Linked DNA regions of Homo sapiens: all the other regions are reported to be linked to region 1. The links are microRNA targets in miRTarBase. Many come from high-throughput screens and were not tested one by one. Region 1 holds a microRNA gene; each other region holds the end of a gene's coding sequence.

Evidence for each region. Region 1 holds the annotated microRNA hsa-miR-8063 (UCAAAAUCAGGAGUCGGGGCUU, at 1,897-1,918, shown strand). A microRNA usually pairs through its seed, bases 2 to 8, with sites in the 3' UTR of a target mRNA and lowers its output. Matches are read on the target gene's strand: a 7mer-m8 pairs with bases 2 to 8, a 7mer-A1 pairs with bases 2 to 7 and ends in A, and an 8mer does both.
Region 2: the mRNA of ZDHHC21 is a reported target of hsa-miR-8063. Seed matches in the 3' UTR shown: 7mer-m8 at 2,029-2,035.
Region 3: the mRNA of GALM is a reported target of hsa-miR-8063. Seed matches in the 3' UTR shown: 8mer at 1,466-1,473.
Region 4: miRTarBase lists FAM216B as a target of hsa-miR-8063. Seed matches in the 3' UTR shown: 7mer-A1 at 763-769 and 7mer-m8 at 1,234-1,240.

What each region holds. Positions count from the first base shown.
Region 1 is chr15:36,970,682-36,974,748 of GRCh38, reverse strand. MIR8063 (microRNA 8063) reads left to right here and starts at 1,848; the gene lies at 1,848-1,928. All of the region lies in intron 8 of MEIS2 (Meis homeobox 2), which reads left to right.
Region 2 is chr9:14,615,138-14,619,204 of GRCh38, forward strand. ZDHHC21 (zDHHC palmitoyltransferase 21) reads right to left here. Exons shown (of 10, transcript NM_178566.6): 10 at 1-3,961. The coding sequence ends at 3,829. Among named protein-coding and RNA genes, the nearest start is that of ZDHHC21, 76 kb to the right of the region's middle.
Region 3 is chr2:38,733,219-38,737,285 of GRCh38, forward strand. It overlaps GALM (galactose mutarotase), which reads left to right. Exons shown (of 7, transcript NM_138801.3): 7 at 270-1,547. The coding sequence ends at 347. It overlaps LOC124905993 (a long non-coding RNA gene), which reads right to left and starts at 332. Exons shown (of 3, transcript XR_007086292.1): 1 at 248-332.
Region 4 is chr13:42,788,399-42,792,465 of GRCh38, forward strand. FAM216B (family with sequence similarity 216 member B) reads left to right here. Exons shown (of 4, transcript NM_001318932.2): 4 at 193-3,151. The coding sequence ends at 392. Among named protein-coding and RNA genes, the nearest start is that of FAM216B, 8.8 kb to the left of the region's middle.

The DNA.
Region 1 (4,067 bases):
CATGGCACGCAGATTTAACAGTAGGACCTGGTTCCTCATGCTGGCTGGTTCCTCATGCCATATCCATCTGATACTGGATTTAGCTTACAGAGGACGTTAACCCATGTAAGTCAAAGCCACAGACTTAAACATCCAGAAAGTATAAGGTGGGCTGAGGGGCAGCCCTGTAAGGTAAGATCTTATTTCAACGTGATTAAATGCCTTCTATTAGGAAAATTGCTTTTTTGCTTCTGTTTTTCATATGTAAATGTTAACGTGGTATGTCATAGCTCTCAAATAATTTGGGAGAATATGGAAAATCATTGAAATGTTGATAAACCAAATTATTTAATTTTTGGAATATGAACAATTTGATTTTTGGAGTGTGAACAAAAATATTACTAATGAAATCAGTGGACTTAATGGTCTTACTGGGGTCAACTTCTGTGGCTCGATGGAAAGAAAAAATAAACGAACTATGTAGGAGCTTGAAATATGAACACTCAGAATTCTGAAATTCATTTTTTGAATTTCACTATGATGTTTGGTGTTTTAAAACACAAAATTATAGATTCAATATCAGCCCTGATATAGAATGTTCTGAAATAATGAAGAGCTGGCATTTCACAATACAGGATAACCAGACAAGAATTTATCTGTACCTGAAAGTTTGGTGACACTCTTCGAATTTCTAGGAAATGGAAATGTGACTGATTTTTATTGAGAGTTTTCAAGGTCAAAGATAGGAACTGCTCTCAAGGCATGATAGCTAGAAAAATCGAGGGGGAAATTGATGTGAAATATTGCTGAATTAAGTGTTTAGAAATACGTAAGTACAAGTTCTGGCAGGTATCCATAGACAACAAGGCATATATCATCTTTAAATATCATAAGGTTAATTTTGGAAATCAGTGGATTTGTATATCTCACGAACATTTCAAGTGGAATACTGGCTTTTTTTTTTAAATAAGAAGAAAACAATGTCATTAGTTTTTAGGGTTTTTTTAATTAAAAGTTCAGTTACAGTTTTTTAGTGTTAATATTTTAACTTCTTATTTGAACGTCATTACTCCAGTCATCCTCTTTATTTTTTCAACTCTTATTATGTGCAAAGCACCAAACCTGATTCTTCTAATTACAACTTGTATTTTACCATGGCAATTCGGATAATTTAAAATAGATGAACGCTTTGGGTTTATTCACTCATGTTTTCTTTTTTAAACCAATGTTTTATAACACCTACTAAGTTCCAGGCTCTTTATTCTATAGTTTTATGCCTACTCTCCTTTTCTCCATTAGAAGAATGCAGATCTAAGCTTTAAAGAGGCAGCAGCATCCAAATAAGAGTCAGTGCGCTTAACCAAAGAACAGCTTTTAACTGTTTCCTAGTGAAACATTTTGAAATAAAGGTCTTTCTACCGGGGCAATAGGTGTTGTGCCAGTGTCACACCAGAGAGTAGAAGCCTTTGAAGAGCCCTTTTGTGACTTGGCCACTCTGCAAAACTCTGTGTCTGAATCCTCAAGCTAAGTGGAATCTTGATTATGTTTTCTATTTGTAAATGCTCTACAGCTTATCCAGCATGATTCTATCATTTTCTTACTTAATCCTCCCAAATACCTGTAAAGCAGGTATTATTGTCCTATTTTATAGATGAGCAAACTGAGGCTTAGAGAGATTAAGTGACTTTAGTTTCCGATGGCCAAGTGGAAACTAAAGCTTAGTCTTTCTTCCACAGCTGTGTTGGTGTATATCGACAAGTAAAAGATGTCTATGCAAACACAGACTAATTCTAGTACATACTTAAGAGATTTAAAAGATAGTTGTTCAGTCAGCCCATACAAAGAAATTGTTTCTTAGTCCTAAGCAATAGAGGCAGTTTCAACAGATGTGTAGACTTTTGATATGAGAAATTGGTTTCAAAATCAGGAGTCGGGGCTTTACTGCTTTTCATGCACAGAAAAAAAAAAGTGTATCTCTATGAATTGTCACAACTGATTCCTCTAAATTCTGCTTTAGAAAAAAAGAATTTGTTATACACTTGAATCTTAAACTGTAGTAAAATTAAGGTCTTTTGGAAACCAGGAGAGGTGTTGGTCCCTGGGGTTCCTTTGAATCATATCAGAGTACACTATTGAAAGAAGGAGAAAACAGGACAAAAAATATTTTAAAAGGCATAAGACACATAAATGAATTTTTAAAAATAGTTTCTATTGGCCAGGTGCGGTGGCTCACACCTGTAATCCCAGCACTTTGGGAGGCCAAGGTGGGCGGATCACTTGAGGTCAGGAGTTCGAGACCAGATCATTGGGTACCTTGAAGGCCATGATAAACATTTTCGTCTTCAGCCTGAAAATAATGGAAAGCCACTGAAGCATGCCAAGCAGTAGAGTGACAAAATCACACGGGTCCTTTGCAGGGATCACTCTGGCTCCATTCTGGAGAACAGAAGGAGGACTAATGTTAATGCTCACCAGCTAGTCAGGATGTTTGTTTTTTTAAACTCAGTCCTTTTAGTTACACTTTATCTCTTAAGGTTCATTCTCTTCCTACTACATCTTATCATAACTTACTTTTGTGCTACTCAGGCAGAAGTTTTTCTTTTTTAAAACTTTTTATTGACAGCATAACGGAACATCATGAAAAAATTTTGCCACCTGAAAAATACCATATTCTCATTTCTTCAATAAAGTTAGTTTTACATTTATAGTTTCTGTTACTATATTGTTCTCCTATTGATATTGCAATGTCTTTATCATATTCCATTGAGATGTATTAAAATTTAGTTACGTGTTGCTCCACACTTGGACATTTAGGTAAGAAGTTTTAACCGAGGATGACAGGGATCAGTGAAATGCTGTCCAAATATATTCTTTTCCATTTTGCAGCAATAGAAACTAAGTTGGGAGAGCATATTCTGCCACTTTCAACCCCAATTATGTGAAAATCTCCCTTTATGAAGAATGTAAAGTCTCTGAGTATTTGTATTAAGAGTAATGCATGTTGCTTAGGCTGTTAAGGAAATATTGATTTCTGACCCTTAACTGAAATACTTAGCTTTCATTTTTCTTCTTTTTACATGAATTGTGTATATTGTGTTCCCCTCAGGGAAAACTTAAAAGCATTTTGTGTTATGAAGGCTCCATTCTAGGATCTTATTGCTTTTGAGATGAATAAATGGAATGCTTGCTATCACTGGAACAGCCCTTTTTTTTTTTTTTTTTTTTTTTTTTTAATGTAACAAGGCATACAAGTAATACAGGGCTGAATTTGGCCCCAGAACTTCTGAAGTTCCAAGCCAGTTTCTTACGGCCAAATTTAGCTTCCAGCTTTCAGTTGATGAGGAGCTTTGGCATATAGGCAATCTAATTTTTGTTCAGTAAAAACCTCCTTGGGTGTTTTAAATATAACTTTAAAATTTGTATTACCAGGTGATGCTTAAGCATTTCTTAGACATTGACTCTAAATAATTGCTCAGAAAACAATGTGCCTTAAAGGTGTTTTATACCAGCCTTCGAGGTATTAGAATGAGATGAGTTGGCGCCAAAACATTTCAATATGCTATAAGGAGATGAAATATGGCCAAACAGGTTTTTATGTTCTGATTATTCCTTTTTCCTGTTACTAGCCAGAGGCAGGTAAATCGACTTTACATCCCCCACCCCCCCAAGCCCACCACCACAGCAATTTTATTTTTATCAACCCCTTAGGAAATTTCAGAGGGTTTTTTTTTTCCTATTCTTTGAACACATACAATGGGAAAATTAAAACTTCTAAAAGTTTCTTATCTATTAATCTGTTGATGAGATGTTGCTTTAAACACATTTTATATTACTAATTAATTTAATTATACATACTGCAGTTGTATTAACACATTTTCTGTTCTCTGCTCTAACGTGACACAGTGCCCTCCCGCAGCCACCTTAACCTAAAGCTTTAATTGCTTTCTCCTTAGCCTCAGCTCATGTTTGATTTATCTGATTTCTTTGTATAAAGATTCTCTAGTTTACGATGTGTACACAGTCATTAAATTGGTGTTGATGTTTATGCAGTGAACTTGCCAACTGGTTACAGCGGACATCCCTTTATG
Region 2 (4,067 bases), not on the chromosome of region 1:
TGTGTAGCTATAATCTAAATCAGTTCACACTTCCTGGTTTGAAGTGTTGTCCTAACTTAAGTCTTCATGATTAGCATTCAGAATTAATACACCCTTTGGAGTGAAACATATCACCCACTAGTTACTTGTATGGGAGTGACTTGAATGTGTAACAAAGAATAGTTATCATTAGCCATCATACTTAGAGAAAAATGCCTCTATGCATTGGCAAAAACGCACTGATGTTAATCCTGGCAGATGTTTTAACTCAGCTGTTATACTGAACATTACGTATTATGTTCTCTATTTCATTATTAAAAATAAACCATGCTTTTTTTCTGAAAAAGTTAATATGTTAACTACAATTTAAAACAGCTATTTCTAATGTTAAGCACAAATATTTGTAATACAACTCTTAAGCAAAATAGTATTTTTATTATAATGAAACATCAGCTAACTTGATATTTTTAAACTGTAAGTCTGGGTTACAAAGTACCAACTGCTCTGTAACTGAATGCCTACTGCTTGAAGGGTCCTGAACTCAGTCCATTTTTGCCTACAATCTTAAGCCTACATGAAGCCCATAAACATTTTTGTTTGCAGAAAACAACAATGACAAATATGATTGTTAAGGAGGTGTAACTTACAGTATCTAGGTAAAAACCTTTCATTTCCAGAAGGTCGACAAATGACTTTACTGATGTAAAAACATGCTTTAACATACATTTTGCTTAAAATCAAATAGAATGTTTATAAAGAAATACTTCAGTCCAACATACATATTACATCAGTAATCTTACTGCTCACAATTATTTTCTAATGCCCAACACCTTTAGTTGTTTTCAGTTATCCAGAATACATAAGAAATTGTTACTAAAACTATAGATATAACTCTGCGAAATGTAAAAAAAAGAACAAAGAAAAGGAAAATTATACAAAGAATCATTAATCTCTTAGTTATTTTAAGGCAATAGAGCCAGTAAAAAAATCATTTCAAAACTGAGTAAAATAAACTAAATGTAGTTTTTTAGATATTCATTAAAACACAGAAAATGCTTGGTTGTCTTTGTAGCTACAATACATTTCTATGTTTTGTAATAAATTGGTAATTTCAAAGTAACAGCTTTTCCAATTCTAAGGAATTACTCTGCCAAAATAAGGTTTAAAATAAAATACATAAAATGGCTTAGTTTATCCTAATCTGATATAAATTTGTGATTGATTGACAGCAAGAATATAATGGGAACGTACATAAATGAAGCAAAGCAGTCATCACATTCTTATGAACTAGAAATAACATCATAAAAACATGTTCATTTTCATAAAATTTTACATTTTTGTACATACACTCCTCCTAAGTTTGTACTTTTGATATGTTCAGAATGTGGCTATACTATTTACTTATGGGGCAGTAAATCTTTAGAGCCAGTATAATTACATCAATTAGCCAAAAGAGGGCGCAGAAACAACACCAGTAGATATGCTTAGCAAACTGCCAGTTGGTTTTTCTCTAGTAGTCTAATAAGAATTAACAAAACCCACAGGAGAGTTAGGTACGCTAACTGGGGAATACTGAAAGTTACAGTGTTAAGTATATATAGATATACTGTAATATACATTCTTATGTATATATACTGATAGATAGCATTTCTGCATTCAAATAAAATAAGTGTATGCTTTTCTAGTATATTAGTTTGTAGTCCAATAATTTAGGGGAACTGAGTACAGAGGGATCAGGACCAGGAAAGGTAAAGAGGAAGAGGGAAAAGAATATGCCCTAGATGAGGTAAATCTAGGAAAAATAAGAGCACAAATCATCAGAGTGGGAAAGAGACCCTGCCCAGTACCCACTGCTACTACATGAAGTATAAATTAGCCACAAAGTTCTTTAGGTGATCTTCACTTGGCTCTGCTGTTTTCTCAAGGTCTTTATTTGAAAGGAATGTATACAATATAAGGCATTCAACTGATATCTACCTACCTTATCTATATATTACTTCCTTATGAACAGTTCTGTCACCAGGCCAAATGTGGCCAAATTAGCTTGCACAAAATCCAAACCCTTGTGCCTGACATGAACATTCTAATTTTGTGTTTCACTAAGCTTTATAAATATATTTCTTCTATTTAATTTACTACGTCTCTTTTCAGTACCAATAAATATGTTCGTCTGCTGTATTTCTGTTCGTATTTCTGAGTTTGTAAGTAATAAAGTATTCTAATTAGAACATGAAAAACATGATATTAACATCTCTGAGAAGAACTTACTCTATTATTTCAGAATATGCTACAAGATATTTACAATTTCTGAAAGAACTAACCACAGTATAGCCAACTGGCTGACAATGGTAACCTTCTGTTTAATTATTTCCCAGGTATTGTTCCTTACTTTCAAAACTAGCTAAAAGGAAAATGTTAGCATGGTTTATGAACAGTAGACTTTTTCAATCTTCTCTTCAAGGGAAAGACTGTGAGTACATAAATTTTTTAAAAAGATATATGGGTTTTGCAGTATTCTAATGGAAAAAAACTAAAAGCTGAGTTTTTTTCAAAGCATACTAAATGTCTTTTCATACAAATGTTCTATGCCTTGCAAAAGAACATCACTATTAGTAATTTACATTTGTACAAGGCTAATGATAAACACAGATCATTATATTTTCTTATTTTAGGTTCACTTCCTAACACTAGCTACTAGTAAAAGGTCTCTCAATGCAAATTACAGCCAGCCAATTAAAATTTAATTTTAATTTAGGGATTATAGGTACACAAAGTTAGTGACTTTTTTTAGTAGTAGCTTCCTATAAATAAAATTTCTATATGAGTTGGCCAATATATATAAACCTTCAATGTGAAATTTTACATCTACTAGTACATAAATAAAAGTAAAAAGTATACTCTTTTCAAAAGCACAATATTCCTCTTTATACTGTACATTATATACTATCTAGTTATACTAGCATTTTAAAAACATATGCATTCTAATATAACTGCACTAGAAAAGGTAATTGTGAAGTTATTGCAAATTCTCTCCCCTTTTTGCTCATTAAAATCTTAGGATAAAATAGGAATACATGCCCACTGGTCAGGAGTTCTCCTGGGAGCAAATATTTTAATCACAATCAATAATTACAACAGTAATAGTGAAAATTGAAAAAATTATTGTGAAAAAAATTTTAACATTTCCTTTATAGTAAGGTAGGTAGTTGGTGTTTTACTTCAGTGGTACTTTCATGTTGGTTTTGGTGAAGAAAAAAGAAGAAAACGTAAGCAAGCCACTCCTAAGAAACCAATGCCCGTTTTGTGTTGCTGTTGTTCACTCCTATGCTGCTGCATTTTTAAAAACGTTGCAGCACATTTAAAAGGAAAGGTTATTTTAAATTGGATTTGAAAAAGAAAATTTACCTATACTATAAGAAGGTGTATCAACTTTTGTAAAACCTGAATAATTAAATTTAGATTTGGTTACTGTTTAAAAGTGAAAATTTTAAATAAACATCTGAAATTTACCATAAATTAGAATCTGTAACACTGTCAGTACTAAAATAAATTATGTACAATTATTTCATCCTAATCACTGCCTTTTGAGTTTAATAACAAAAGCATTTCAAGAAATCCCTGTGGAAAGCTAATTTGAAAGTAAACATGCTTTAAAACTTAAATATAGATCTTGTATTAGTCCCACAACAGGATCAAGATCACTATTAAAATAAAGCCTGGGGCACATTATGATGCCTAAGACTGGTGGGTGGATTTTAATTGACTTGAAGACTGTCATAGTTCTATTATCATAAAACCTGTAACGCATTGCCAGCATGGAGGACCCATCTGTGCCCACCATCCATCTGTTTAGACATGATTGGCAAAGTGGTAGGGAACTCGCAGTGGTTGCCTCTGCCTGAAAGGAATGAACCACAGGATCTTCCAACGAGTGCCAAAAACTTCTGAGAAGGTCTGCTGCCATGGCTTTCGGGGCCTCGATCTACAGAAGACAGCATTATTAGTGAAAGACAGCACTCCCATGGTGCACTTCAGTCAGCTAAAACAATACAGATTGGCTGGGGATCCATTACTGGACTCTGATGAAT
Region 3 (4,067 bases), not on the chromosome of region 1:
TCAAAAAAAAAAAAAAAAAGCCTACACCTTACACCAGATTATAGATCAACACACTGCTTCCCTTCATCAGGAAAGCCTTCCTTTAACAAAGTGTGCTTTTTTCACTCTGATTAAAGTTCTTTATCTCACTATGAACCAATCATAAACAGTTCCCGCACTGGCAGCCATCCACAGAGCACTGGTCTAGAAGCCCGTCCAGAAGCACACCCAAATGGTTAATGTTGCAGCCTGCGGTGTCAAGCATCACCTGTGTTGTTTCCCCTTCACAGCCCCGCTTCCCTCCTGTGCTGCTGAGGCCTGGTGAGGAGTATGACCACACCACCTGGTTCAAGTTTTCTGTGGCTTAAGGAAGTGTGAAGATATGATCCAGTCCAGGGCTAGGCTCAGCCACCTGTCTCCTGTCCAGAAAAAAGGTGAAGATTAAGAAGCTTTCAGAATGATTCTATGGATTAAAATCATACAAATGGTGGCTGTTCTGAGAATCAGTCTGGGTATTGATTTCCTTTTCCAGTGACTGGCTCCAGGCCATGTCTAATGACCAGCTCGATTCCCTGTGCAGTTCAGAGGGCAAGTGAACCCAACCAACAATGTCGTCATCTAAGCCCTGACCCTAGCCAGGGACTCCCATGCTGCTGTTGGCTCCATCTCTCCACACTGCCTCTTTCTTTTCAACTTTTTGCCCTTCCTTTCTTTAAAGCTATTCTCACATTGCTTTTATTTCCTCCTCCTTCACCTCCAACCACTGTCAGCAGCACTCTGGAGTTTTCAAATGTCACATTAGCCTCACCCTGCATGCTAGGAGATGGACCTGTCTCTATACAGCAGTAGATGATTGATAAGTGAGGAAACTGAGGCTTACAGAGGTTGAAGACCAACAAGCTAATAAATAAAAAGTTGAGGCCGGGCACGGTGGCTCACGCCTGTAATCCCAGCACTTTGGAAGGCCGAGGCAGGCGGATCACGAGGTCAGGAGATCGAGACCATCCTGGCTAACACGGTGAAACCCCGTCTCTACATAAAAAATTAGCTGGGTGTGGTAGCACGCACCTGTAGTCCCAGCTACTTGGGAGGCTGAAGCAGGAGAATCGCTTGAACCTGGGAGGTGGAGGTTGCAGTGAGCCGAGATCATGCCACTGCACTGGGCAACAGAGCAAAACTCGATCTCAAAAAAAAAAAAAAAAAAAAGGAAAAAAAAGCAGCTCTCTCTCTCGGGAGAGGGAGGGGACTTCCGAGAGGAAAAGGCCTGCAAGAGCCTTTGGGTTAACTGAGAAAGCACAGCCCGGCCAACGCTTGGGAAGAAAGACAGGCAAGCACTGGAAACAGGAGCTATTAGGGTGAGGAGAGAGCCTTGCCTTTCACAGCACAGTGAGGATGACATTGCACCAGGGACAGAGATTGTATGTGACAAGGCTGGGGCTCCTTCTTTCCTAGACAATCAAAGTATCAGTGATGGGTTTTGGTTGGTGATTTTGAAAAAAAAAAAAAAAAGTATGTTATACTAGTGTATGCTGTACTGAATTGAAATAAAACCAAAATCTGCATCTTCAGAAGACTTGTTCCTTTACTCAGCTTGAAATCTCTCAGGCGTGGACCTTTGGGAAATGGACCAAGAATATGGGTGTGTTCTGGATTCTACTTTGCCCTCCAGTGGGAGCCCTGGCATTTTCCTACCTAACAGTTAGGAAAGCTATCTCAGTGGAAGTAGCTTTCCACACCTCCTCTTTCTTTGTAACCGATAATAAACCAAAGATCTTGTTTATTTTTTAATTCACTTCAGCATGGATTTTTCTGAGCACCTGCTCTGTACACAGCCCTCTGCTGGGTCTGTGAAGGGATTCAGGTCAGGTGTGATGCTGCCCACAGCAGCCAGTCAGGTGAGGTACATGCTCAGTTGTCTTCTCACTGGTGAGGTTAACTTTGGTGACTTGAGCAAGATGCTGCCTGCAGATCTCTCCACTCTTATTAAAGTTACCAATATATACATTAGCCAAGAGGCCTCAGAGGTGAACTATTAAGCTGACTGCAACCTAGCTACCAATTTGATTATTAAATTGTTCGACGCAGGGTTCTCATACTCTAGGTGCCAGCAATCATTTAGGAAATCCCAGAGAAGAAGAGAATGAACATTTTCTTATTCACAAGTGTAGAGTTGCCAGTTGCCCCTGCTTTCTGTATCCTGACCAAAAGTCACAGAGTGCCTTGACCTTTGTCACCTAGCCAGCTGCAGATTTTTCCTAGCAGGCTTGAACCCAAACCGGGCCTTGAACATTCCCAGGCACTGATAAATCTGTCTAGGTTGTTCCCTAAAACACTAAAAGAAACTGGCACTGGGCCGGGCGCAGTGGCTCACGCCTGTAATCCCAACACTTTGGGAGGCCGAGGCGGGTGGATCACCTGAGATCAGGCATTCAAGACCAGCCTGGCCAACATGGTGAAACCCCGTCTCAACTAAAAAAAAAAAAAAAAATACAAAAAAATTAGCTGGGCATGGTGGCGGGTGCCTGTAATCTCAGTTAGTCGGGAAGCTGAAGCAGGAGAATTGCTTAAGCCCAGGAGGCGGAGGTTGCAGTGAGCCAAAATCATGCCATTGCACTCCAGCCTGGGTCACAGCAAGACTCTCATTGCACTCCAGCCTGGGTGACAGCAAGACTCTGTCTCAAAAAAAAAAAAAAAAAAAAAGAAAAAGAAAAAAGAAACTGGCTCTGGCCCTGAGCCAAATTCCTTTAACTGTCATAGAAACTCCCTCACTGCTGATATACCTGGGCAGAACACCCCTTTTCTCTCTCAACCATTGCTGCAGCACTCTGTAAGGAAGTTCCTCTAATAAATGCTTTGGATTGATCACCCTGGCGCTTAGAGCTTCTTTCTTTGAAATCCCAGCCGGCCCTATCTCGAGATAGTTTGGATCACTCCCTGATGGGGTCTCCCCTGCTGCCACTATGGGGGCGATTCCAGCCCTGGATCCACTGAGACAAAACAAAGAAATGTAACAACTACAAACTAGTTCTTAATGTAATGGCCTCTAGGTTTGAGAATGCCAAATTAATTAATTAATTAGCCAAATACTTTGTTTTCTTCTGTCCAAAAAGATTATTGTTTTTATAAGAAGCCAAGTCTACAGTAGTCCAAGTAAGGATATTCATTGCCTGTAGGGCAGCTGAAATAAGTTACTGGCCTTTAAATTAATGGTGTTTATAAAAGCAAGTAAAAAAGGCGGCCAGGCGCTGTGGCTCACATCTGTAATCCCAGCACTTTGGGAGGCCAAGGTGGGTGGATTGCCTGAGGTCAGGAGTTTGAGACCAGTCTGGCCAACCAGGTGAAACCTGGTTTGAGACCAGTCTGGCCAACCGTCTCTACTAATAATACAAAAAAATTAGCTGGGCGTGGTGGCATGCACCTGTAATCCCAGCTACTCAGGAGGCTGAGAGAGGGAAATTGCTTGAACCAGGGAAGTGGAGGTTGGAGTGAGCCGAGATCTCGCCACTGCACTCCAGCCTGGGCGACAGAGCGAGACTCTGTCTTAAAAAAAAAAAAGGCTACATTTGTCACACCATGCATCTGAGGGAAGCAAAAATTTAGAGAAACTCTTTTTGTGGCAGCAACCAATCTGTCCTTTTTCATGAAACACATAACTTTGCTTGAGAAGCCCTTCCATGTGCTTATAAGACATAGATTGTGACATGTGACAGCATGTCAGCATAATTGGGTGATTTTATGATAAAATCGCTGAAGGCCCCAGCAAGAAGTAAAATTTTAGAAGGTGCTGGACGCGGTGGCTCACGCCTGTAATCCCAGCAGTTTGGGAGGCCAAGGCGGGTGGATCACTAGGTCAGGAGTTCAAGACCAGCCTGGCCAAGATGGTGAAATCCCGTCTCTACTAAAAACACAAAAATTAGCCAGGCATGGTGGCAGGTGCCTGTAATCCCAGCTACTCAGGAGGCTGAGGCAGATAACTGCTTGAACCTGCGAAGCGGAGGTTGCAGTGAGCCTAGATTGCACCACTGCACTCCAGCCTGGGTTACAGAGCAAGACTGTCTCAAAAATAAAAAATTGTACAAGGTGAGATG
Region 4 (4,067 bases), not on the chromosome of region 1:
TATTAACTTATTGAATGAGAAATACAAAAGAAGAAAAATATATTTCCAATCTTCAAAGATCATATAATCTGGGCATGCTTACCACAAGAGTAGAATAAATTTTGTACACATAAGTAAATATTTGCAGTTTTGTTTTCTTATTTGCCTTGTAAAATTGTTGATTTTGAAGTTTCTCTCATTTCTTTCCCCTAGGCTATATTACTCAACGGGAAGCCTTGTCTTATGCTCTTGTACTTAGAGATTCAACCAAGAGAGCCTCAGCCAAGGTAGCTCCTCAAAGAACCATTCCCCGGAAAACTTCAGCCATGACAAGAAGATGTCCATCAGTACTACCTGTATCTGTGGTTCTACCTAGGGCCCAAAGTAAAAGGCGCCAAGTGCTCAGGAACTGAGACTTGGCAGCATTTTCAGAAACAGGAAGTTTGCCCATGTATCCCTGGTATCTAGTGGGTGCTTTGTGCATATTTGTTGAATGACAGTGAATAATTTCTAATATAAACCCCAGACCTAAAAATAATCTCTGATTCATATAAATTTTGCCAGCAAGACCAAGAGGTTTAAGAGCAATGGAGCCGAGAGTAAGCAAGCCTTTCCACATAACATCCGTAGAGTAAAAGGACTTTTAAAGCTTTCAAAGTAAAAGTTTACTTTGGATTAGAACCTCCTAGAGAAGTCCCCAAAACAGTGAAAGGGGACAAGTGACCAGAAAGGGCCAGGTCCTCTGTCACTGGGTGACCATTTCTAGCAAACTATCATGTATACATTTTGAAAATATACAAAACAACACAGGATTAACACTGATCATAGAGGGCTTACAAAATCATATCATCCCAGCAACAATTGGCCTGTGCATTTCCTTCCTCTCCTCTTCCCCATCAGGCAATGGCATTTAATTTAGCCCCAAAGCTCTTCTAGTTCTCACCTGGCTTGATCACTTTGTGTCATCTTGAAACATGCACTTATCAGTCTACCACAGCTGAATTGATTTTATGGAGCTGTAACTGGCCTTGACATGGGTAAGAGAATTCATGCACACATCTTTCCCTGGCAGCTGAAGAAACACTCTTAAAAGAATATGAAATAACCCCGAAGACTTTATTTCATGTCCAACCTTTCTGTGGCCTCAAATGTTTTAAGCAAAGCACATAAAACTATACTAAGCAGTGAGTCAGTTCATCATACAAAGGCATAGTATTGCATTAGTTATATTTAATGGTTATTTTCATCACCAGAGATTTTGTGTGTGTGTGTGTGTGTGTGTGTGTGTGTGTTAAAAATCAGTCACCAGTGCTCATGTAAAGTCAAAACAAAAAAATGCTTCTTCCTCATCATTGTAAAATACGTCACCCCATTCAAATCAGCTGATGCCTATGAAAGGAATTGGTTGAGGTGGAATATAAATTTTATTGACAAGGGATGTGCTAACATTGATCTGAAAGGAATATGCTGCATTATTATCAGAAAAAAAATCATTATCTTCTCTTTGCAATCATGAACATATAAGATATAAAAATTGTCATGAGATTCTGAACACTAGTATTGAGGTCCAGCACTACTTCCAAGCTCCTATCTGACTTTTCTTTGGGAGGAATGGGAAGTGTGGTTGGCCCACTAGTCTGATAAGAAGTCTTGGTGAAGCTAATACTGACCTTGCTGGGGTCATTCACTTAATCATAAAGAAGCTTCTTGACCTCTGCAAATTCTGGCCCTGACATGTATTCTAAATACCTTTACAGTTCTAAGTGAGAAATTGTTACATAGGCTTAGAAGAAGAAAAGACTCCAGTGGGACTGGGATGAGCTGCGTGGTAGCCCTCATAAAGCAGAGAGGTTGGTGGGAGACCTAACTTGGCCTATACTAGCCTTCCCATTGTTTTCACAATGGGCCTTTTATCCCCTCTGAACTGCTTGCCTGCACTTTTATCTTAGACTTTTTTTTTTGATGAGCATAGGTATTTGCTGTGTAAGCCTTATCTAGTGATGCAGAATATCAAGGAGGCCACTTACAATTCTAAGCTGCATCCCTGTATCAAAAATCTCAGAAGCACCTTGCATCTGATAGAGGCTTGTAAGAGCAGATTGACAGGTGAATGTCACAGGTCCATAAGAAGGACAAATAGATCTAAGTTGGGCAAAAGATTCTATTTGTTGGTTCTCCCTTCTAAGATGATAATATGCCCCTGCACTTGAGACCTTACTTGAAACTTAAAGAAATGTGATTGGTTATGGTGCTGGGAGAAAGGGGTGCACCTGGGAGGACACTGAGAAAGATAAACAAAGGGGAAGGAAGAGAGGACAACCTGTAACTTTTAGAAAAGGCTACTACTTTTAACTGTTGGAGAAAATGCTATTGCTTGCACTCACAATGTCAATATACATTATCAGAACTTAAGTCCTGGAGATCAGAGACTGTTTCACCTGAAATTGCTAGCACCTAGAATGGCCCCCGGTTGCGGTAGGCAATCAATAATACTCTTTGAATAATAATGAGGTTTTCAAAGATTCTGCAAGTCAGACTGGCCTCTGGCTTTGTGATATTATTCTAGAGTCCCAGTAACCCACAATTGTTGATGAGGAGTAGCAGTAGAATATCAAGGACAGGTGATGAGACAACAAGTCTATCCCGCAAAGGGCAGGGAATAGAGGGTACACTGGAAAGAATTTGAAAACAATAATAAAGCTGACTACAAGTTGGTCTATTTTTTATTACCACCATGAGCCAGCAATTCTAAATAATATCAGTGATAAAGTATTCATCCCCCAAAATATTTTATTGAACTAGGTTCTAAACAATTTCTGAGGTTACTGTTGAGTTTTAAATAATACATATATGTAAGCTTCAAAGTAGCACATTTGTACTGTTTTTCTTCAATAATCATTTTACTCCACATGGAAACTAATTCAGGGAATATCCTGCTATATAGTTGGCTCTCAGTACATATGGTGTCAGCTCATGTGTCTCCAGCCCCTGTAGTACTATATATTATTGCATTTAAATGATGGATTTGAAATAAACAATGATTATACCATGATTGTAAAGACAAGAAACAGAACCTGAAATACTTCAATTTTTGATTCTATGTGGCAGTTTAGAGTTTTTTAAAACAATTTTTATGTATAATTTATATGCAATAAATGCCCTCAAAGTTCAATGAATTTTTCTTCATTTCAATTACTATATTTTAATTTCAAGAAGATCTATGTAATTTTATTATAAATCTTTTTTGTAATCAGCTTTATAGTCTATTTTTGCTTGTATATGTATTCCCTCTTTTTTAAAAATAATATAGAATCAGGGGGTACAAATGCAGGTGTGTTACATGGGTATATTTCATAATGCTGGGGTTTGGGCTTCTATAGAACCCATCACCCAAATAGTAAACATAGTACCCAATAGGTCATTTTTTGACCCTTGCCCCCATCCCTCTCTCCTCTCTGTTGGAGTCATCAGTGTCTATTATTTCCATTTTTATGTCCAAATGTACCCTTTGTTTACTTTTCACTTATAAGTGAGAATATGTGGTTGTCTGTTTCTGCATTAATTGATTTTGGATAATGGCCTCCGGCTGCATTCATGTTGCTGCAAAGTACATGTTTTATTCCTTTTTATGGCTGCGTAGCATTCCATGGTGTGCGTGTGTGTGTGTGTGTGTGTGTGTGTGTGTGTGTGTAAGTATTACATTTTTAAAATCCAGTCCACTGTTGATGGACACTTAGGTTGATACTGTGACTTTGCTATGATGAATAGTGCTATCATAAACATATGAATGCAGATGTCTTTTTGAGAAAATAATTTCTTTTTCTTTGGGTAGATGCCCAGCAGTAGCATTGCTAGATGAACTAGTAGTTCTATTTTTATTTCTTTGAGAAATCTCCATACTGTTTTCCATAGAGGTTAAAAGTTCAATGAATTTTGACAAATGCATACAGTCACATAACCACCACCACAATCGACATAGACCGTTTTCACTAGCCCAGATGTCCCCCTATCCTTTTGCAGTCAATCTCCTCCCCTAAAGTCTGGCCCATGGAAATCACTGAGCTGCTCTCTATCACTCTAGTTTTGCC